3 linked regions of the Homo sapiens genome follow. The protein of the gene in region 1 purifies or fractionates together with the protein of each later gene. This does not show direct contact. Each region holds a gene or a part of one and is shown in the gene's direction. Other genes may lie near its edges.

Evidence for each region. Proteins that work in one complex are often made in the same cells at the same time.
Region 2: the proteins of OXLD1 (region 1) and CARS2 purify together in Homo sapiens (affinity purification with mass spectrometry; 3 studies listed by BioGRID and IntAct, with this or other methods). This does not show direct contact.
Region 3: the proteins of OXLD1 (region 1) and NDUFAF5 purify together in Homo sapiens (affinity purification with mass spectrometry; 3 studies listed by BioGRID and IntAct, with this or other methods). This does not show direct contact.

Annotation. Positions count from the first base shown.
Region 1 is NC_000017.11:81,664,527-81,671,531, reverse strand, and holds OXLD1 (oxidoreductase-like domain-containing protein 1), read left to right. Parts: upstream 1-4,926; 5' UTR 4,927-4,954; coding exon 4,955-5,014; coding exon of another isoform or gene 5,015-5,233; exon of another isoform or gene 5,234-5,338; coding exon of another isoform or gene 5,339-5,368; exon of another isoform or gene 5,369-5,947; coding exon 5,948-6,331; 3' UTR 6,332-6,496; downstream 6,497-7,005. Other genes in the region: CCDC137 (coiled-coil domain-containing protein 137), read right to left, coding at 1,079-1,307, 3,670-3,803, 4,632-4,765.
Region 2 is NC_000013.11:110,703,106-110,710,426, reverse strand, and holds the start of CARS2 (probable cysteine--tRNA ligase, mitochondrial), read left to right. Parts: upstream 1-4,310; 5' UTR 4,311-4,333; coding exon 4,334-4,557; intron 4,558-4,855; coding exon 4,856-4,906; intron 4,907-7,321. UniProt on the Homo sapiens protein: Mitochondrial cysteine-specific aminoacyl-tRNA synthetase that catalyzes the ATP-dependent ligation of cysteine to tRNA(Cys). In addition to its role as an aminoacyl-tRNA synthetase, has also cysteine persulfide synthase activity.
Region 3 is NC_000020.11:13,780,501-13,788,038, forward strand, and holds the start of NDUFAF5 (arginine-hydroxylase NDUFAF5, mitochondrial), read left to right. Parts: upstream 1-4,527; 5' UTR 4,528-4,568; coding exon 4,569-4,790; intron 4,791-5,849; exon of another isoform or gene 5,850-6,811; coding exon 6,812-6,852; intron 6,853-7,538. Other genes in the region: ESF1 homolog, read right to left, coding at 2,004-2,640. UniProt on the Homo sapiens protein: Arginine hydroxylase that mediates hydroxylation of 'Arg-111' of NDUFS7 and is involved in the assembly of mitochondrial NADH:ubiquinone oxidoreductase complex (complex I, MT-ND1) at early stages. May also have methyltransferase activity.

The DNA of each region.
Region 1 (7,005 bases):
CCCAGTGGTTCTCAGCTGGGGACAGCTACCTGCCAGGGAACATCTGACAATGTGTGCAGACACGTGGGCAAGGGCTACTGGCACCTTGTGCACGAAGGCTGGGAAGGCTGCCAAAGACCACCCAACAGAGACTCATCCAGCCCATCCGGTGCTGCTGTGTCTAAAGGGCCTAACAAGCATTGTATATCACGTCTCCCTCAATGTGAATCTGGAAGCTTCACCTTCAGCGACAGCTCTGGAGATCACCGTGGCGCCAGGCTGTATCTGGGCCACGTTCTCTGTGATGAACTTTCACTGGCTAAGGTAACTATAAGTAATACAACAATCCAGAAACAGGGAATCTACAGAGCTGAAAGCAACCTCTCAAACCTTCAAAGCTTTTTTTTTTTTTTCTTTTTTTTGAGATGGAGTCTCGCTCTGTCACCAGGCTGGAGTGCAGCGGCACGATCTCAGCTCACTGCAACCTCTGCCTCCCGGATTCAAGCGATTCCACTGCCTCAGGCTCCCAAGTATCTGGAATTACAGGCATGCACCACCACGCCCGGCTAATTTTTTTTTTTGTATTTTATTAGAGACAAGGTTTCACCGTGTTGGCTAGGATGGTCTCGATCTCCTGACCTCGTGATCCACCTGCCTCAGCCTCCCAAAGTGCTGGGATTACAGGCGTGAGCCACTGTACTCGGCCAAAGCTTTTAGAGAATTAGGAAGGTGTAGTCTCTTGGACGAGAGACATTCTGTTCTAATGGAAACAGAACCCCTGGGCACGTCACCCTCAGACCGACCCCCTCAGGGCTGATTCCCACAGGGCTAGGGCTTTCTGGTGCTTTTCCTGTGAAAGCAAGGACCAAGCGAGGTCTCCGCAGAGTTCCCAGGTTCCGCAGCCTCCTGGAGGCCACACCCTCACTGGCTCCCAGCTGGATGCTCCGACTCGCCAACTCCCAGGGCTCTGGCTTGGTCTCCCTGAATCCAGGCTGCCCCATGGCTATGAAACAGGGTACCTGCAGAGGGCCGTCATGGGAACCCAATGTCTTCCCTCCGGCTCCCAGGGCAGACCCCTCCCCCTCCCGCCTCCACTCACGCTTTTTTTGCTTTTTTCTGCTCAGACTTCTCCTTGGGAGCTGCCTGCACCTCTGGCTGCCGGATGGCCTGGTTCTTGCTGAGGAACAGCACATGCTGGGCCTCTTGCTGCATGCGGTGGATATAGGCCCCGTCAGACTCCCCCTTCCTCTGTTTGAACTTGGGGACTGCGATGTCGGGCTCCTCTCCCTTTGCTTCCTTCTCCAATGTCTTTCTGAAGGTCACCTGGGCTGAGGACAAAGGGAGGCCTCAGAGGAGGCAGGAGGCAGACAGTGGCAGGCAGGTGACCCATGCTCATTTCCCCTCCCAAAGCCACAGGAAGGGAAGACCAGGCTGGCTGGAAGCACCCCAACGACAGCAGCTGAAGAGGATGTAGAATGCCCGGCCCGGCATCCCCGGGGACGTGACCCCCCAGCCCAATGGCACCTGTCACAGATGTCCACTGCAGCACAGCTGAAAAAGGAAAGCAGAAACAACCTAATGTCCACCCCTAGGTGGCTGGTTGAATGAATTCTCCTCTGATCACCCACAGACTCCATTGCACAGCTGCCGAAAGAAGCCCAGTGGAGCTACACAGAGAAACGTGGGCAGACCTGCCGGGCGCGGTGGCTCATGCCTGTAATCCCAGCACTTTGGGAGGCCAAGATGGGCAGATCACAAGGTCAGGAGATTCAGACCATCCTGGCTAACACGGTGAAACCCTGTCTCTACTAAAAACACAGAAAAAATTAACTGGGCATGGTGGTGGGCGCCTGTAGTCCCAACTACTCGGGAGGCTGAGGCAGGAGAATGGCGTGAACCCGGGAGGCGGAGCTTGCAGTGAGCCGAGATTGCGCCACTGCACTCCAGCCTGGGCGACTGAGCGAGACTCCATCTCAAAAAAGAAACGTGGGCAGACCTATGACATCCACTGAGAACGCAAGCGCAGGACCCCGGGCGAGTGTAGAACACAGGAGGCGGACAGTGCCAGGCAGGTGGTTGTGTTCATAAATATGTGAAGACATGCATATTGCCAGGCATGGTGGTTCACACCTGTAATCCCAGCACTTTGGGAGGCTGAGGTGGGCGGATCACCTGAGGCCAGAGTTCGAAACCAGACTGGCCAACATGGCAAAACCCAGCCTTTACTAAAAATACAAAAACGAGCCGGGCATGGTGGCACAGGCCTGTAATCCCAGCTACTGGGGGGGCTGAGGCACAAGACTTGCTTGAACCTGGAAGGTGGAGGTTGCAGTGAGCCGATATTCTGTCTCCAAAAAAAAAAAGGCCAGGCACAGTGGCTCACACCTGTAATCCCAGCACTTTGGGAGGCTGAGGTGGGGAAATCACTTGAGGTCAGGAGTTCAAAACCAGCCTGGCCAACATGGTGAAACCTCGTCTCTACTAACAATACAAAAATTAGCTGGGCTTGGTGGCGTGTGCCTGTAATCTCAGCTACTCGGGAGGCTGAGGCAGGAGAATTGCTTGCACTGGAACTGGGACAGGGGAGGCAGAGGTAGCAGTGAGCTGAGATTGTGCCACTGCACTCTAGCCTGGGCTAGAGGGAGACTGTCTCAAAAAAAAAAAAAAAAACCACACACAAAAAATTAGCTGGGTATGGTGGTGCGTTACCTGTAATCCCAGCTACTCAGGCGGCTGAGGCAGGAGAACTGCTTAAACCCAGGAGGTGGAGGTTGCAGTGAGCCCAGATCACGCCACTGCACTCCAGCCTGGGCGAGGAAGCAAGACTCCATCTCAATAAATAAATAAATAAACAAACAAACAAAGGTGCCAATTCAATGCAGCACGGTTCAGAACGTGCCATGTGCTACCCAGGCCAGTGCGCCTCCTCCCTGCACCTTCCTCACCTCTATCTCACTATCCCTTTGGCAGCCATATAACCCCCAACAAGAAGCCTACAGTTTATACACAAATTATAAAACAGCTTTGCTGTAAAACCAGTGCCACGTTTGGGAAGAGAAATGTGTCTATAAGCAAAATATACACACAGTGGACTCCGTTTCCCAACATGCCCAGAGTGTTACCTCTGGGTTGCAGCGGTGGACATGTGGACACCCTACCCAGACTTGGGGGAGGAAGGCAAGACTTCTCAGAGGGGCCTGATGGAATTTCCTCCTTCAGCTCCTGACTCCACCCACTTCTCTCTACCATTGCTTCAGCACTCTTGTCCCAAGAATCATGGCTTCTCCCTGGCAGTAGCCCCGCCAGTTGCCAGGTCCACTCTCCCTCACTCCATCATCGCTCGGTGACCCTTTTTTTGCTTAGAGTAAACATGAATTGGCCGTGCCCTGCTAAAAACTCTGATGAATCTTCGCTACTTTTGGGGAGAAAAAAACGCCGCTCCTTAGCATGGATCCTGAGGCCCCATAACGGGTCCTCCCCGCCCACCCCACAGCCTCCTTCCAAGCCTCGTCTGGAACCACAGCGCCACCAGCTGCCAGCCACTGCTTTAGCTTTGGCCACGCTCCCCCACCTTCTGAGCACCGGGTCTTGGCATATTTCCTCTGCCTGAAACGTTCTGAAGTATTTGGGCGATTGGGCGGGTTGAGACACACAAAGCTTCACTGCCGCCCAGTATGGGCCTGCACACACCTGCTTTCTTCCTCTTCTTGTTACTGATCGGGTTTTTCATCTCTTGGCGGCTCCTCATAATCTCCCGGAGCCGGAAAGGAATCTCCTGTTCGTCCTGGTTCTTGGGCTTGCAGTTCACTTTCTTCTTCTCTTTGCTGGGAGAAAGAACACGGGGGTGAGACCCGTCCCAAGTAAAGCACAAGCAGAATCAGTAAGAGAAACAATAGTTGGGTCTGGCAATAGAATCTACACGGGCTGGCCGGGCTTGGTGGCTCACGCCTGTAATCCCTGCACTTTGGGAGGCCGAGATGGGCGGATCACGAGGTCAGGAGATCGAGACCATCCTGACTAACACAGTGAAACCCCGTCTCTACTAAAAATACAAAAAATTTGCCGGGCGTGGTGGCGGGCGCCTGTAGTCCCAGCTACTCGGGAGGCTGAGGCAGGAGAATGGCGTGAACCCGGGAGGCGGAGCTTGCAGTGAGCCGAGATCGCGCCACTGCACTCCACACTCCAGCCTGGGCGACAGAGTGAGACTCCGTCTCAAAAAAAAAAAAAAAAAAAGAATCTATCTATACAGGGGCCACATCTGGCTTCTGTGGTGCGAGCCGGTCCAGCAGTCCAGGGAGCAGGGATCTTTCCTCTCGGTCTCACTCAGTGGCTGTCCCTGAACCCCTTCCTCACGGGACGCGAGGCCGAAAGGCACTCCGAAAGCCCAGGAGGCCTTTCCGCCCTGACCTCGTCCAGAACCACAAAGACGGGACACTGGGACGCGGGAAAGGCAAAACCAAGGACTCGCTCGCGCCTCCATTCATTCAACCGATCCTGGCGGAGCGTGGGCCGCGGGCACAGACAGAGGAGGGCACTGAGCCCGACCTGGGGAAGGGGTCCGAGCGAACGCTCCCTAGGGGGTCCCGGGCGGAGCCTTCAAGGCGTCCCCTTCTCTGGGGAAGTGTGGCGGCCTCGCGGGGCAGCGCAGTCACCTGCGAAGCCCGGGCCACGGGGCTGGGCGCTGCTTCCCCAGCGGCTGCACTTGCTGCCGCCCCCGCGCTCGCCGGGGACTCCCAGGACCCGCCTGCACCCTGGACACCGCTGCTCCGCGACCAGCTCCCGCCATCTCCACGCCGGGAGGCTCCCTAGCGAAGCCACTTCCGCCTTCCTGCATGGTTCCGCCCCACCGATCGGCACTTCCGCTTCCTGCGCTCAGCCTCACGCTGGCTGGAGCGGCGCGACTTCCTGAAGGTCCGGGATTGGCCGGAGCGCCCGCCGCTCACGGTCAGGGGTTGCCGGATCCCGTCCGCGGGCGATGCTGCTGCGGAGGGTGGTCGAGGGAGGCCGGGCGGTAGCCGCCGCGGTCCGTGGCTCGGCAAGTACCAGGACGGGTCTTGGCAGCGCCGAAGGGCACGTCCGAGAGGCCGCTGTCCGGGGGCCCGCACGTACCGGGAGGAGCCCCGGCCCCTCCACCCGCATGTGGGGACGGAGCCGGGAGGATCGCGCGCTGGCCGCCGCCGAAGGACCCCTCGCTCCTCTCCTCCATCGGCTCTTACCGAGTCCCCGCCCCGGAATCTGTGGAGGGGCCGCTTAGCCTTGGGAGAGGAAGCAGCCCGGTGAACGGCCACTTTCCTGTTTCTCAGTATCTGCCGAGCGCCTGTGTGCGAGCCCTCCTGGGCTCTGGGGACTGGCCGTGGACATGGAGCGGATGATGCCCCTCGCAGGACTAGTTAAATAAGTGAAGTTGGTAGCGTGTCAGTCCGTGATCCTGGGTAGATAGAGCAGGGCAGCGACGGAAGACTGCCTATAGGACATTCACGCTGGGATGAGAGGGGCCTGAGAGGCCTGGGCTTTGTGACAGGGAAACTTGGATAAAGGGTGGTGCGATTCTTCCGGTTGGTCCCTCAGAGGTGGTGGGGCTTGGTTATACTGGTAGAGGTGCTGGGCTGGCCAGGAGCTTACAGGGTTACACCTCTCGCATACTGGTGTCCACAGAGCAGCCATCTTAGCTGGAGGTGTCGAGTGCCTCCCCCACCCCCCACCATGTGCTTGAGTGCACACCCGGCGCCAGGCCCTGATCCTGGCACTTCTTGTGAATCACACCGTGTCATACCCATGACTTCCATTGCACAGTGGGGAAACTGAGTCTAGAGAGGTGAAATAACATGTCTAAAGTCACAGGAAGTGAAAAAGCTGAGGACATGGAGCCAGTTGCCCAATGACAGGAGAGCTGAAATGTCCTCACTGCTGGGGGTAGACCGGGCCTCACCAGCTTCCTGGAGAGTCACATGTTTGTCTGCATCCTCAGGGGGCTCGCCGGTTCTCCAGCCCGGACTGCTGCCAGAGGCTTCCTGGAGGTGGCAGCTTTCTTCAAAGGCACCATCCCGGAGCGCAAGCCCCTGATGGGCGCAGAAAATTCGGGACAGACCACGTAGAGGTGGGCTCCCAAGCAGGTGCGGACGGCACCAGGCCGCCCAAGGCATCGCTGCCACCTGAGCTCCAGCCGCCCACAAACTGCTGCATGAGTGGCTGCCCCAACTGCGTGTGGGTGGAGTACGCGGACAGGCTGCTGCAGCACTTCCAGGACGGTGGGGAGCGGGCCCTGGCTGCCCTGGAGGAGCACGTGGCTGATGAGAACCTCAAGGCCTTCCTCAGGATGGAGATCCGGCTGCACACCAGGTGCGGAGGCTGAGCCATCCCTGCTGGACTCCCTACCGCAGGACGGAGTCCAGGACGCAGCCGCAGCCTCCTTCCTTCACACCCCCTCACAGACTCCTTGTGTCCAACGGGAATAGGAAGAATTAGTTACTGACTTCACCTGAGAAAAAAATAAATTCTCTATGGTGGTTTCACAGGAGGTTTTTGTTTTGGGGGTGGTTTTTTTGGCAGTATGTCTGCCAACCAGAATGGCTGCTGATTTGGCCTCAACAGGAGGCTTTTGTGTGGTTGTCCGTAAGGCTTGTGTTGCATCTTCAAAGCGAGCAGGTCCAGGTCGGCATTATGCACCTCCGGAGCTCTTGCAGCCATCACCCTGCCATGAGGGTAAAATAAGACCCCCAGCCGAGTGTGGTGAAAATAAGACCCCCAGCCGGGTGTGGTGGCTCACACCTGTAATCCCAGCACTTTGGGAGGCTGAGGCGGGCAGATCATGAGGTCAGGAGATGGAGACCAGCCTGACCAACATGGTGAAATCCCATCTTTACTAAAAATACAAAAATTAGCCAGGTGTGGTGGCAGGCGCCTGTAATCCCAGCTACTCAGGAAGCTGAGGAACCCAGGAGGCAGAGGTTGCAGTGAGCTGAGGTCATGCCACTGCACTCCAGCCTAGGTGACGAGAGTGAAACTCTGACTCAATAAATAGGACCC
Region 2 (7,321 bases), on another chromosome or scaffold:
GAGTCAGATATAAGAGATGAACATATAATTCTTTTTCTTTTTTTGAGACGGAGTCTTGCTCTTGTCACCCAGACTGGAGTGCAGTGGCGTGATCTCAGCTCACTGCAACCTCCGCCTCCCGGGTTCAAGCGATTCTCCTGCCTCAGCCTCCTGAGTAGCTGGGATTACGGGTGCCGGACGCCATGCCCAACTAATTTTTGTATTTTTAGTAGAGACGGAGTTTTGTCATGTTGGCCCAGGCTGGTCTCGAACTCCTGACCTCAGGTGATCCGCCTGTCTTGGCCTCCCAAAGTGCTGGGATTACAGGCGTGAACCACCGCGCCTGGCCAAGCATAGAATTGTTTAAGTTTCAAAGTGCTTAAAAAATAAATGCAAACTCATTCATCTTAAACTTGAAAACCCCTAAACCATATGCTACCGTAATCAACTCTACTTCTGATTTACAAGATTTTGCCTTGAAAGAAAATGTAATACTGAGAACTTGATTTTGTTATTGTTGTCATTAAGGACTGAGAAATGGCATTAGTGATATTTTGGAATCATTAACTTTAACACACTTCCTCGTTCTGACCTAGATTGGAGAGGGAGGTGACTTCAATTAAATGGATCCTCTTTTTATGTATATATGGTGTATTAGTCAGGGTTCTCTAGAGGGACAGAACTAATAGGATGGAGATATAGATATATATAATGTATATACATATATATGTTTATTAAGTACTAACTTACATAATCACAAGGTCCCACAATAGACTGTCCGCAAGCTGAGGAGCAAGGAGAGCCAGTCTGAGTCCCAAAACTGAAGAACTTGGAGTCTGATGTTCGAGGGCAGGAAGCACCCAGCACAGGAGAAAGATGTAGGCTGGGAGGTATAGTAATGAAGAGCATTAGCAGTCTATTTTACTTTACCTTAATATTCAACCTGCAGATATTCAATATGCAAAAAGATCACATTTCTAACCATCATTAGGTAATGAGCTATGTTTCTCCTTGTTTTGATGATCCGCAAAAGCCTTAAGAAAACAGAATTAGCTGCCGGGCACGGTGGCTCATGCCTGTAATCCCAGCACTTTCAGAGACCGAGGTGGGCGGATCACCTGGGGTCGGGAGTTCAAGACCAGCCTGACTAACATGGAGAAACCCCATCTGTACTAAAAATACAAAATTAGCTGGGCATGGTGGCACATGCCTGTAATCCCAGCTACTCAGGAGACAAGCAGGAGAATTGCTTGAACCCGGGAGACGTGAGAAAGAGGCAGGAGAATCGCTTGAACCCAGGAGATCACGCCATTGCACTCCAGCCTGGGCAACAAGAGTGAAACTCCATCTCAAAAAAAAAAAAAAGAAAAAAGAGAAAAGAGAATTGGCCAGGTGTGGTGGCTTAGGCCGGTATTCCCACCGCTTTGGGAGGCTGAGGTGGCTGGATCACTTGAGGTCAGGAGTTCCAGAGTCCCAGACCAGCCTGGCCAACATGATGAAACCCCATCTCTACTAAAAATACAAAAATTAGCTGAGCGTGGTGGCACGCACCTGTAATCCCAGCTACTCGGGAGGCTGAGGCAGAAGAATCACTTGAATCTGGGAGGTGGAGGTTGCAGTGAGCCGAGATCGTGCCACTGCACTCCAGCCTGGGTGATAGAGTGAGACTCTGTCTCAAAAATAAATACATAAAAATAAAAATAAAAATGCAAAAATTAGCTGGGCACGGTGGTGTGCACTTGTAATCTCAGCTACTGTGGAGGCTGAAGCAGGAGGATTGCTTGAACCAGGAGGCAGAGGCTGCAGTGAACCCAGATCAGGCCACTGCACTCCAGCCTGGGTGACAGAGCAAGACTGCCTCAAAAAAAAAAAAGAAAACATAATAGAATCACTGCCAGTGAGGGGCTAAAAACATTACATGAATTTTCTGAAGACAGAAGATACTATTGTTAATTTAAAAGTTGTGATGTTCTATGAACAATTCAAATATACCGCATGTCCAGATTCATGTGCAGATTTGATCTTCAGTGTTACTAAGCTGCTTTCAGAATCTCTGCTCCAGTTATTTCCTTGAATTCGTGTGTTCTCACAGATTGCAACTGAGCTTTTTGTTAATTTGCTTTATTTACTGGCACATCTAATATCTGAATCAGCTTTATCAGGTATTTTACTACCCAGATTTCTTCCCACCTGCACAATTAATCCCTTTCGTAAGGGATTAATTCATCAACATTCAACAAGCCCTTTTATTTCTTCTAAATTTTTTTTTTCCAGCCACAGCAAAACAAAACAAACAAAACCCAAGTCCTTTTCTGAATTTAGTGCAGGGCACAGTGAGAAGTTCAAAATAATGTACAATTTAAGATACTCAGGGAGATAAATATACACACAGCACTGGAAAGTTACAAAATAACATAAGGCAGGCAAGAAGTGATAATATTCAGGAGAATTTAGAGTAGTTAGGTAACATGAGTGGTTAGCATTGATGTAGGCTATAGGGTCTCCTAATTCTAACATTTTAACCTTATTAAATTAGACAATAGATTACATTAGACTACAGTTAGCTTGAAACAGAATTGCAGAGTTGGACTCCAGGATATTGAGAAACTACTCTAGGTACACACTTGTTTGTCTCTACTTAAACCTTTGCTTTTTAATAAAACACCAAAGCAAACTAAAAACAACAACAAAAAACCAGAGGAACGTCTCCTGTTTTGAGAACTGGAAAAGCAAAGGGGACTTTTTCTTTTTTTTGAGACATCGTATTGCAAGACACCAATAGAGGCACTTTTTTTTTTTTTCAGGCGGAGTCTCCCTCTGTTGCCCAGGCTGCAGTGCAGTGGTGTGACCTCAGCTCACTGTGAGCTCTGCCTCCTGGGTTCAAGCGATTCTCTTGTCTCAGCCTCCCCAGTAGCTGGGACTACAGATGCACGCCACCACGCCCGGCTAATTTGTGTATTTTTAGTAGAGACGGGGTTTCACCATATTGGTCAGGCTGGTCTCGAACTCCTGACCTCAGGTGATCCATCCGCCTCAGCCTCCCAAAGTGCTGGGATTACAGGTGTGAGCCACTGCGCCTGGCCCAATAGAGGCACGTTTGTCAAGCTATTGTGAGTAACTTTCAGAATGTTTTTGTTCTCAAGATACGGGATCATGGTGGGGGAGGCATGCTGTGTATTGGAGTGCAGACATGGTGTGTGTTGGGTTGCACACTGTGTATTGGGGTGCACACTGTATTGGGGTGTAGATGTGTGGGGGCGCACACTCTATTGAGGTGCACATTGCATTGGAATGCAGACAGTGTTTGCTGGGATGCACATGTGCTGTGTTGGGGTGCACACTGTACTGGGGTGCAGACATGGTGTGTGTTAGAGTGCACAGTGTATTAGGGGTGCACACTGTATTGGGGTGTACACTGTACTGGGGTGCAGACATGGTGTGTGCTGGGGTGCACACTGTATTGGAGTGCACACTGTATTGGGATGCTGATGTGGTGTGTGCTAGGGTGCATACTGTGTATTGGGGTGCAGACTGTATGCTGGGTTGCACACTGTGTATCGGGGTGCACTGTGTTGGGATGCTGATGGTGTGCTGCAGTGCACACTATTGGGGTGCAGATGTGTGTGCTGGGGTGCACACTGTATTGGGGTGCACACTGTATTGGGATGCTGATGTGTGTGCTGGGGTGCATACTGTGTATTGGGGTGCACACTTCTTGGGGTGCAGACTGTGTGTTGGGTTGCACATTGTGTATCGGGGTGCACTGTGTTGGGATGCTAACGGTGTGCTGCAGTGCACACTGTATTGGGGCGCAGATGTGTGTTTGGGGTGCACACTGTATTGGGGTGCACACTGTATTGGGGTGCTGACGTGTGTTCTGGGGTGGACACTGTGTATTAGCGTGCTGACGTGGGCTGTGCTGGGATGCACACGTGCTTCGCTAACAGGCCAGGGCCCGGCAACAGAAGCTTGCACTGTAAACGCTCCTCCCGCGCGGCGGACACAGCTCCAGGCTGGTACCGCGCGCACACGGACGCCTCGCAGGACCTGGGCTAATAAGGAGAGGAGATCGGCACGGTACCGCCTCTTCCCACGGCCTCCCGGCGCGGCACCGCCCTCCTCCCTCCACCCCGGGCCTTCCCCGCCCCAACCTCTTCGGGCCCTGGTTCTCCACCCTTGCCGCGGGCGACTCGAGCCAGGCCAAAGGGAGGCGCTACCTGAGGACTGCTTCCGGGAGTGGGCGTGGCCCCAAGGGCGTGGGCGGGGCGGGGCGGGGCCGTGCTGCTCTTGAGCGACCGGCAGCGTACCCGGCGTGGCTCCCGTCTCCGCCCAGTCGTAGGCGCTGGCCGCTGACATGTTGAGGACTACGCGCGGCCCAGGCCTGGGCCCCCCGCTGCTCCAGGCCGCGCTGGGCCTTGGGCGGGCTGGGTGGCACTGGCCTGCGGGCCGGGCGGCGAGCGGGGGGCGCGGGCGGGCCTGGCTGCAGCCCACGGGCCGGGAGACGGGTGTGCAGGTGTACAACAGCCTCACCGGGAGGAAGGAACCCCTAATCGTGGCGCACGCCGAAGCCGCCTCCTGGTGGGCCGCGCGGGACTGGGGCACGGGCGGGGGCCGATCGTGGCGGAGACTTCCCACGGCTGAACGGGATCTGGGCTCGGGGAGGGCGTTTAGGAAGCTGCATGGAGGGCGCCGTTCTAGAAGCTGGGGGTGCGCGGTGCTTTTGCAGGTTTGGGTGTGAATTGAGCAAGTATGAAAACCCCGGCTATTCATCCCCCAGAAGTGATTACTTTAAAAATTATATGATCATTATAACTCAGAATCGAATGTCCTTTCTTGCAAATATGTTCCACACGATGGATTTTAACTTTGTTTCCAGGTATAGCTGTGGACCAACTGTATATGATCATGCGCACCTTGGCCATGCTTGGTGAGTTTCCTGGATTTGAATTTTCATACTTCAAAGGACCATTTATTTTTGAAAGCCTTTTGCTGATTTCTTTTATCTCTTAAGTGGCAACTTAGGGATGCAGAATAATTCCTACATTCCAGGCATTGTGGGAAATGTTACAACCTCATTTGGTTCTTATAGGGATTCTGAGCACTTACACCCGTTTTACAGGTGAGGAAACTCAGGGAGACAATGGAGCACTGAAAAATGACCCGTTTTGGAACTAGATGTTTTTTGCTGGGTTTAGTGACATCAAGAGGCCTTTGCGGGGTCCCGGGGTCCTGCTGATCAGTCATTCCTGGGCCCCACCACTTCTTAGCTTCACAGCACTGAGCAGGTCACTTTATTGCTTTGAGTCCTGGTTTCTTCATCTTTGAGATGGGAATGATAACTTGGATCTTATAACAATTTTAGTAAATAATGCCCATAAAATGCTGCTTAACACTGTACCTCACATGTGAGATGTCACGGGGCTCAATAGTGATTGAGTAACTTTCCTAAGATGACACATTGAAGAGGTATTGGAACTGGGGTGAGGCTTGGTTTCTCTGACTGCGAAGTGGTTGCTCTCTTGACCTCTTTAACTGTAAGATGTACTGCCTCCTACATTTGCCAAAATTACCACTTTTCCTAATATTTTGTACATTTCCAAAATATAATGTACAAAAATGACATATTATAGATTTTTTAAAACTTAGTATTGTTCAGTCCTAGACTAAAAGTAAAAAGTTACATTTACTCTGTATACTTTTTTTTTTTCTTGAGACGGAGTCGCTCTGTCGCCCAGGCTGGAGTGCAGTGGTGCAATCTCGGCTCACTGCAACCTCTGCCTCCCAGGTCCAGTTGCCGCCTCCTGGCAGCAATTCTCCTGCCTCAGCCTCCGGAGTAGCTGGGATTACAGGCATGTACCACCACGCCCGGCTAATTTTTGTATTTTTAGTAGAGACGGAGTTTCACCATGTCAGCCAGGCTGGTCTCGAACTCCTGACCTCAAATGATCCACCTGCCTTGGCCTCCCAAAGTGTTGGGATTACAGGCATGAACCACCATGCCCGGCATACTCTGTATACTTTAAATATACATTTTTCCCCTTTACTTTGGGCTAACATACTTTTAATTATCAAAAGCATATTTCGACATCTTTCTTGAATTATAAAATATGTTGGGGAAATATTAAAAACAAAACCCCCACCCTGGAAAACCTTTCCACAAAGGTAGAAGAGAAAGAAAACAGTTCTGTTACTGAATAAGCCTTAAACCAGAAGGGGATGAGCTAAAATAACTGCAAAGACAGAAAGAAATCTCATCCTTCTATGGAGCTTTGGGGATACAGCCTGTCTCAGTCTATGAGTCTGCTGTAACAAAATATCCTAAAATGGATGACTTATAAACAACAGAAATTTCTTTCTTTCTGGGGCTAGGAAGTCCAAGATGAAGGCACCAGCAAATTTGGTGTCTGTTGAGGGTCTGCCTGCTGTGTCCTCACATGGTAGAAGGTAGAGGGAATTCTCTGAGGTCTCTTCTATGAGGGCATTAACCCCAGTCATGAGCTCTCTGCCTCCATGACTTTGTCACTCCCAGAGGCTCCACCTCCTAAAACCGTCACCTTGGGAGTTAGGGTTTCAACCATGAATTTGGAGGGAAGACAAACATTCAGACCATAGCATAACCCATTGCTTCAGGTGAGTTACAGTGTGGAGTCAGATGACAAGGTAGGCCCATCTCCTCCCAGGACACTGGGAAACGGGGCGTTATTTTCCTTGATTACATTTCAGAGGTGGGTCCCAGGTTTTGAAATTTTCTTGAGTTGTAAAACTGCCAAGAGGTTTATTTAGCCATTTAAAAGATTGACATGCATTTGAAGAGGACTGAGGAAGAAATCCTAAAAGTTGTTGGGGAGAGAATCTCTTCTCATTTCCAACTAGGAGAGTCAAGTCTTGCAGTTTAAATTTGTATAATATTTACCTTTATGACTACAGAAAAGAATACACATCTTAAGTGCGCAGCTGAATGCATGTTATAAGCTGTGTCCACACAGGGCCTTCCCAGGGGCTGGTGGGAGCTTGGGACTCTCCTGTTGACCACCTTCCTGTCAGCCTGGCCAACCCCTCCAGGCCTTTGCTGGGCTGGCCTGCCCCACCTCCCTCTCCCCATCTCAGCTCTCCTAGCATTGTACTCCTTCAGTGGTTATTTATGCAACCATCTGATGTCGTTAGCATGATGTAATTATTTCAGCTCCAGCAGGACAGGGATGCACACAGTGCCTGCTGCAGAAAGGTAGAATTTGAGCAATGGGTAGCACTCAGTTCACTGGAAAGAGACACCCTGAAAAATAGCCTCCACCATTTCCAGAAGAGGTCAGAGGGATGGAAACCCTGTTTGGGGAAAACAAAT
Region 3 (7,538 bases), on another chromosome or scaffold:
GTAAAATGGGATACCACCACTGACTCCCTAGTCCTTGCTATCCAGAATTCACTCCACTGCCTGATACCTTCTACCCTCACAGTGTGATCTCTGCTTATCAAGACCTCTTGGCCTATCAAAACCTCTTGGCCTATCAAGAACTCTTGGGCTATCAAGACCTCTTGGCCTATCAAGACCTCTCGGCCTATCAAGACCCCTCCTTGGATCCTGTAATCACAGGTCTGGCTCATGTGAACTACTACTGGTTTTCAGTTACATCTTCAACTATCAGCAACATCAACACTCAAAATTGCTTGCTGCTGGAGGTGACAAAAAATTTTAATTAGTAAACACGTAATGCAAACTAGAGCCAGCTGTCTCTCACCTAGTTCCAAACAATCATTTCTCGCTGCTACTCATTTTGGCCCTTCAAGACCTTATTATCTAATCAAACGGGACTACTGACCTCTTCTGAACATGCCCAATCACATCTTTGCTCAAAAAGTTCTTTCCATGTAGCACACTCTGGTCCTCAAACTTAAATTTTTCCACACCCCAAAGTAGTGCGTCCCCTATGAATTTTTCTGATTACCACATCTTGAGTGACTTCTTCCTCCAGATTTCCATGGCTTTCTGCTAAACATCTTTTACGGCACTTACTATTATTGCATTTTGTATTATGGTTCTGACTTTCTTCTACTTTAGATCTATATTGTCCAATATGGTAGCCAGTAGTCACATGTGGTAACGGAGCACTTGAAATGCGTTTTGTCTAACTTGACATTAATATGAAAATAGTATTAGTATGAAATGAGTAGAAAATGGGATGTAAAATATACATTGACTTTTATATTGATTACATATTGAAATAATTTTGATATATTGGGTTACATAAAATATATTATTTAAAATAATTTTACCTGTTTCATCTTACTTTTTAATGTGGTTACTAGAAAATCCAAAATTATGTATTTCTACTAGACAATGTTGCTTTAGACAGGGGCCACTGCACAAAGTTTAGCAGGCTGTTATCCGCACAGGGGCATTTATAAAAGGACAAGAAGGGCTAAAATCAAGGCCATCCTACACTCACCAAGCCATGCACTCTGGAGGGGGCTGTGTCTGCTCAGGGGCAAAAAATCTGTTGCTTCAAAGGCGCCATCTCTTCACCAAAGTGTGACCCCTGGGAGCTCTGTGTGTCCAGAGAGCATGCCTTTTTCTAATTTGCATAAAGGCATCATATAAGCTAGCGACAGCCCTGAGATGGGTGACGACGCCTTACTCATATTCTGCCTGCCACATACTAGTGGCAAAGCAACTGAACAAATTAATGAATGAGTACTCAACTCTACTTACCCTCTTATTTTATTTTTGAGACGGAGTCCTACTTACCCTATTTATTTTATTTTACTTTTGAGACAGAGTCTCGCTCTGTCAGCCAGTCTGGAGTGCAGTGGTGCAATCTCAGCTTATTGCAACCTCCACCTCCCAGGTTCAAGCAATTCTCCTGCCTCAGCCTCCCGAATAGCTGGGACTACAGGTGTGCGCCACCATGCCTGGCTATTTTTTTTTATTTTTAGTAGAGATGGGGTTTCACCATGTTGGCCAGGCTGGTCTTGAACTCCTGACCTCAAGTGATCTGCCCGCCTTGGCCTGCCAAAGTGCTGGGATTACAGGCGTGAGCCACCATGTCCGGCCTACTTACCCTCTTTAGACACATCTCTTCTTATCATGTGATGACATATAACACTTTATCTGGTTAGAGAATATAGTTCTCATTAGGGCTCACCACTAATCAAAATCACTGTTTAACTTCAAGATTCAAATTTTCATGTCTGTCTTCTAGCACCACATCAAAAATTAATAATCACTGCATATTTCTTTTATAGCTTTGTATTTCCAGATAAGCATTTGACCATTCCATAATACTATGAAAATACTTATTAATGTGTTTACATTTTTGAAAGATCAGTATAAAAATAAATAATGTAACACCCAAGAATCTCTAATTTTTTCCAACCTACCTGATTGCATTTCTCTTCTTGTCTTAGAACACTCGATTCTGGGAGATTTCACAATTTCAGAGGTGCCTGAGTCTAATGTCCTTTGTTTTTCTTCGAGAGAAGAGTCTGTAGTATGTTGAACAATGTTTTTTTTCTCTTTCTTATTTTTTTGTGTAAATTCTTTGCTATCCTTCTTCGGACTTATGTTTGAATCTATCTTAAATTTACATGAGGTTTTCATTTTTTTAATTCCTATAGAATTATCTAAATCAGTTTTATTTTCAGAACCCTTGTGATTAGCCTTCTTGGTTTCTTTCTTTTTCTCAACTAGATTTTTTGAATCGATTTCTTTTTTAGTCTGGGTTTTTTTCTTCTTTATTTTCTTTTGACTCAATGCTTTGCTATCTTCACCAGAGAGATTGGAATCAGAATCTGAAAGGTCGTAAAAACGCTTCAAATCCTCTGTAGTGCTATGGCTAATGGGGCGCCCTCTTTTATCCACGGCATAGTTCAACTTGAACTTCTTGTCATGAAACATGGCTCGAAATCTCTTGTCAATTTTGACTTTTCGATCCTTTTCTGGCATTTCCCAAAATCTCGGGTCCTTTGCAACCCGTCTAAACCGCTGGTCACTCATTATTTCTTGTTTGGATGACATTTTTAATTCTTAATCTCGACCAAATGCTTGAAGAAAACAAATACTGAAAAATAAAACAAATGTTTTAATGGTAATAATGGTTAGTACAATAATTAAATGTTTTAAAACACATTCACAATATATTCTAAGTTAATATATTCTAAGTTAAGTGTACATAAAATAGAGGTAACAAGTCTAATTTCATCTCTCCAACGTATTCTGGGTCACATGCAAAAAAGCAGAAACATACCAAAATATCCTCTTTCCATGACAGATCATTTAGAGAAATAAACTTAAGGTAGACAAAGCAGAATCCCAGGGCTTTATGGAGGGGAACAAATGTTTATTCATCCATTGCTCTCACTTAGAATTTCTATTTGTATACCAGTATGTGTTACTAATTGAAGGCAAATGTAGTTAAGATTCCCTAGGCCGAGTGCGGTGGCTCACCAGCACTTTCGGAGGCCAAGGCGGGCGGATCACTTGAGCCCAGGAGTTCAGGACCAGCCTGGGTAACATGGTGAATCCCCACAAGAAATACAAAAATGAGCCCGGCATGGTGGCGCGCGCCTGTAGTCCCAGCTACTTTGGAGGCTAAGGCAAGAGGATCACTTCCACCCGGGAGGTCTTGGCTAGAGTGAGCCTAACGGCACTACAGCACACCAGCTGGGGCAACAGAGTGAGACCCTGTCTACCAAAAAAAAGTAAGAAAGAAAGATTCCCTAGCCTCCGTTGGCCTCATTTGTTTCTTCACATTCTGGTCTCATTCTGCTTACTCCTTATCTCCGGCTACTGCCAACAAACAGCCTTTAGTTCTGTAAGACTAGCATTCTAACTAAACAGACCAAAATCAACTCAGGTTTAGCTAAGAAAGTTTCCTTTTTAAATTCGATCATCCTTCAAAAGTAATAAAAAGTTTAAAAATAAAAAGTAAATTTGAGTCTCCAGGTAAAGTCTCACACCAGTTAATAAATATCACTTCTTTCTATAATATCTGATTCTACCAGTGATGAAGGCCCAAGTGAGCTCATTCCCCCAAAACATACTAGAACATATACATATGTGTGTATAAATTAATATTGTTCCCTTGTGAAAAGTCTCCAATGGTTTAGCATCTCTGGATGGGAATTTTGCAAAGAGCCAAAAGTCGTTGATTATTAAGCAACCCCCCCCCAAAATGATTAAAAGGGCAATATTTCTTATTTAAAAATCAAGTCCTTTTAATTACACTAACTAGGAAAAAAAAGGAAGCTATCGCTGGTGCATTTACACATTTTTCGATGTATTACAGCACTTAACTCTCTGAGCAATCTTACGAGGTAGGTACCACCTCAACCAGGAGAAGTACTGCATGTATTGTAAATGTTTAGAAGGAAAGCACTCATTATATGTCAGATAATCCGAGAGAGGGGAAGGCGACCGGACCTCACTCCCGACACGCGCCCGCATCCCCGTAGCCCACCCTCCCCTTCTGCCCGCTCTCTAATTCGGAGAACACAGGGCTGGCCCCTGAACTAGGGTCTCCTTTCCACCTCCTGTACCGCAGGGGGGCAGCTAACAGACTGATTCGAGAAGCGACCCTGAAAAGGATCGATGAAGACTGAAGAATGAGACCGAAAAAGGCTCAGGAGGAAGGGGCAAAACCCCTCGCAGATCCGAAAGAGATCCTGTTAGAGACTAGTTTTTTCCCCGCGCCACACACACACACGCCCTCAAGCCCTTCATCTCGAGCTCTTCAACTCCAGTCCATCCCCACTCACCGTCCGCAGTCCTACCAAGCCTCACGTGGGGCTCACACCCACAATCCTCCGCGTGACGCTCCGCCGTAATGGCAAGCGAACTAGGCCAAACTACTTGCACGTTCCCTCGAGAAGATCTTTGGAGTAGACACAAAAGCCGCGCTGGCGCATGCGCACAAAAAGCGCCGGCAATTGGGGTCGCAGCTGGAGATGCTGCGGCCGGCAGGGCTCTGGCGCTTATGTCGGCGACCTTGGGCGGCGAGGGTCCCAGCGGAGAATCTTGGCCGTAGGGAAGTCACCTCTGGTGTCTCTCCCCGCGGTAGCACCTCGCCCAGAACCCTGAATATTTTCGACCGGGATTTGAAAAGGAAACAGAAGAACTGGGCAGCCCGGCAGCCCGAGCCGACCAAATTTGACTACCTGAAGGAGGAGGTGAGCCCGCGGGGCGGCGGGGCGGCGGGGCGGGCGACGCGGAGGCTTGTTTTCCTCTCCGCTAGTTCCGGCTAGGCCCCGAGCTCACCCCACCTAGCCGTCTGACCTTGACCAGCAGCCCTGCCTCTTTCGGCCTCTACTGTAATCACGCAAGGCCTGGCCTCGGATATTTGTAACATGCTTTCATTCATTCATGCATTCATTTCGGCAACGTCCTTGAGGCTGAAAGGACCTTATAGAGGCCTCCAGTGAAGCTCCGGAGAGGGAGAGAGTGGGAGAGAAGGTTAGGAGGACCCAAATCATCAGGGCCTTGCAGGATAGGGACTTGGGGTTTTCTTCTGTATCTGCACTGTCCAGCCAGTATGGTAACTGCCGGCCACACATGTGGCTGTTGAACACTTGAAAGGTGACTAGTCCAATTGAGATGTGTTGTAAAATACACACGAGTATAGTGACTTAGTATGAAAAAAGGATGTAAAATAGCTCATTAAGAGCTTTTATATTGATTACATGTTGCAGTGATTATTTTTGATATATTGGGTCACATGAAATATATTAAATATAAATTTAAATTTTTCAATTAAAATTTCTCTCGTTTTTACTTTTTTTCTTATGTGGCTACTAGAAAATTTGAAATTACATATGTGGCTCTCATGATTTTTGGTCAGCACTGCTCTAGGGGAATGTGAAGCTCTTGTTTTAATCAGTGGAGTGATCTGACTTATGTTTTAGGAAGATCAAATTAAGATTTCTGATTTGTCTTGGCTCGTTTGAGAAACCTTTCTCCCTGCCCAGGTGAGCCAGAGACTGAGGGTTTCTACTTTCAGGACACGCATTCTCAAGTTCAGGCCTCAGTAAATTTTTATTCAGGAGTGGAACAAAGTTGGAGTCAAGTATAATGCAACAAACAGTTATTGAACTCATAGCTTGAGCAGAGCTCTGTGCAAGTACAGGTCTGATCAGATGATTGACAGGGTGTCTTTCTCAGGAAGTCTTAGGCTGGTAATGTCTATTATAGGAAGTTTACTACCAATAAATTTTTTGTGTCTCACTTGTAAGGCATGGTGCACGTACTACACTGCTGATGTCGTGTACTTAGAAGATGTGCGCTCATAGCCCTTTCCCTCCAAAGAAAGCACCTGGACTACAACTTGATTGAGGCCTCGCCAATTTGTGAGACTAGAACAAATAAGATAAAGTATATGAGAGTTCTTTTTATAATAAACATAGGGTGTTCATATTAGGAATGACGTACAAGGTGGACTCCTGGGAAAAACATCTACGCTCCCTTCTCCCTTGCCCTTCTCTCAAAAAGCAGGTACATCTGTGTTTGGAACTTTTAAGTCCTAAGAGCAACTCTGGGGTGTTTATGAGGGAATGAGTGGAATGTGGGGAATACTAGACTCCCACGTCTTTATTGCTACCAGATGAAGCTAGGCCAGCAAAAGGTGGTGCTTACCTTATGACTCTTAAATTGGGATGGGATTGGAGCAGGGGAGGTGCACTTTCCTCAGATTTGGCTTTTTCTAACTTGCGAATGTCACTCAGAAAAGTTGTTCATTTATGAGTTCCACAAAATTTGTTAGTCATCAAATAATAGAGTTTTTCTTAAGTGACCACTTACATACTCATCTACAATAAACCCCAACTAACTAATTTTTCACTTTGTGTACCTCATGCTAATATCCGTGGACAGTAATGTGCCTGTTGTGTTCCTTTTGCTTTTCATCCTTGTGATCTTATGTCACATGGAATGTAAAGGCCACATATATATATGTGTGTGTGTGTGTGTGTATATGTATATTTTTAAGAATATTTAGTCTGGATTTCATGAAATTGACTTCTGAAATAATTTGCCTCAATTTTGTTTCCTGGTGGTTTGAGAAGAAAGTTCCTGTGGTGAAATTGAAAAGGGGATAAAGGGAAGTACTTATTTTAAAACATAAGTAACTTGTGGATTGTTGAATACTGGAAAAAGAGTGTTACTTCCCCGTTAACCTACGCCTCGTGTAATCCTTCAGGTTGGAAGTCGGATCGCAGACCGTGTATATGACATACCCAGGTAAGTGGTGGTGATCATAATACAATACCATCAACTTTTGAGTGGAAATTCAGGAGATTAAATGCTGAGAACTTGCTATCTGAAATGGCAGAACCTGGAAGAATTTACTCAGACTGGTGATTTAAATCACTCTGTAAGTCTCCTTTTTCTTGTCTGGAGAGCAAATGTTTTCTTCATTGTTGCCTGAAAAAAGAAAAGAATGTGTGGAAGCACAACTCGTATCTATCTCCAAGCCTGAATCCACTTGATTTGGCCAAAAGCAAGTAATAGAAAGATTGCTCCAAAAATGGAGATACTTAACAACATGCGAATTTTTAACATCCGAAGCCTCTGTACCTAACTGTGCCATATTGCCTGTGTTCATCATCAAGATATAGGGCATTAGGTAAATAAGGTTATCTACCACCAGGGATTCTCCAGCTATGTACTATAATTTTGACAAAGCTTTTTAAAAACAAATTGCAATGGGGCTCTTTTTGTTCCAGTTTTTCAGGAAGAATGTTCTTAGTAGATAAAATTTTAAGTTTTCTTATTATAGGTTTTTTTTTTTAAACCTATGGCCTACAATTAGATGTCTGTACCAATGTAGCATAACATAGTGTATTTAGAGGAGACAGCATGGCATGGAGGATAATAGTTCCAGCTCAGGATTCAGACTGACCGAATTCAAGTGTTGACTGCCCCTT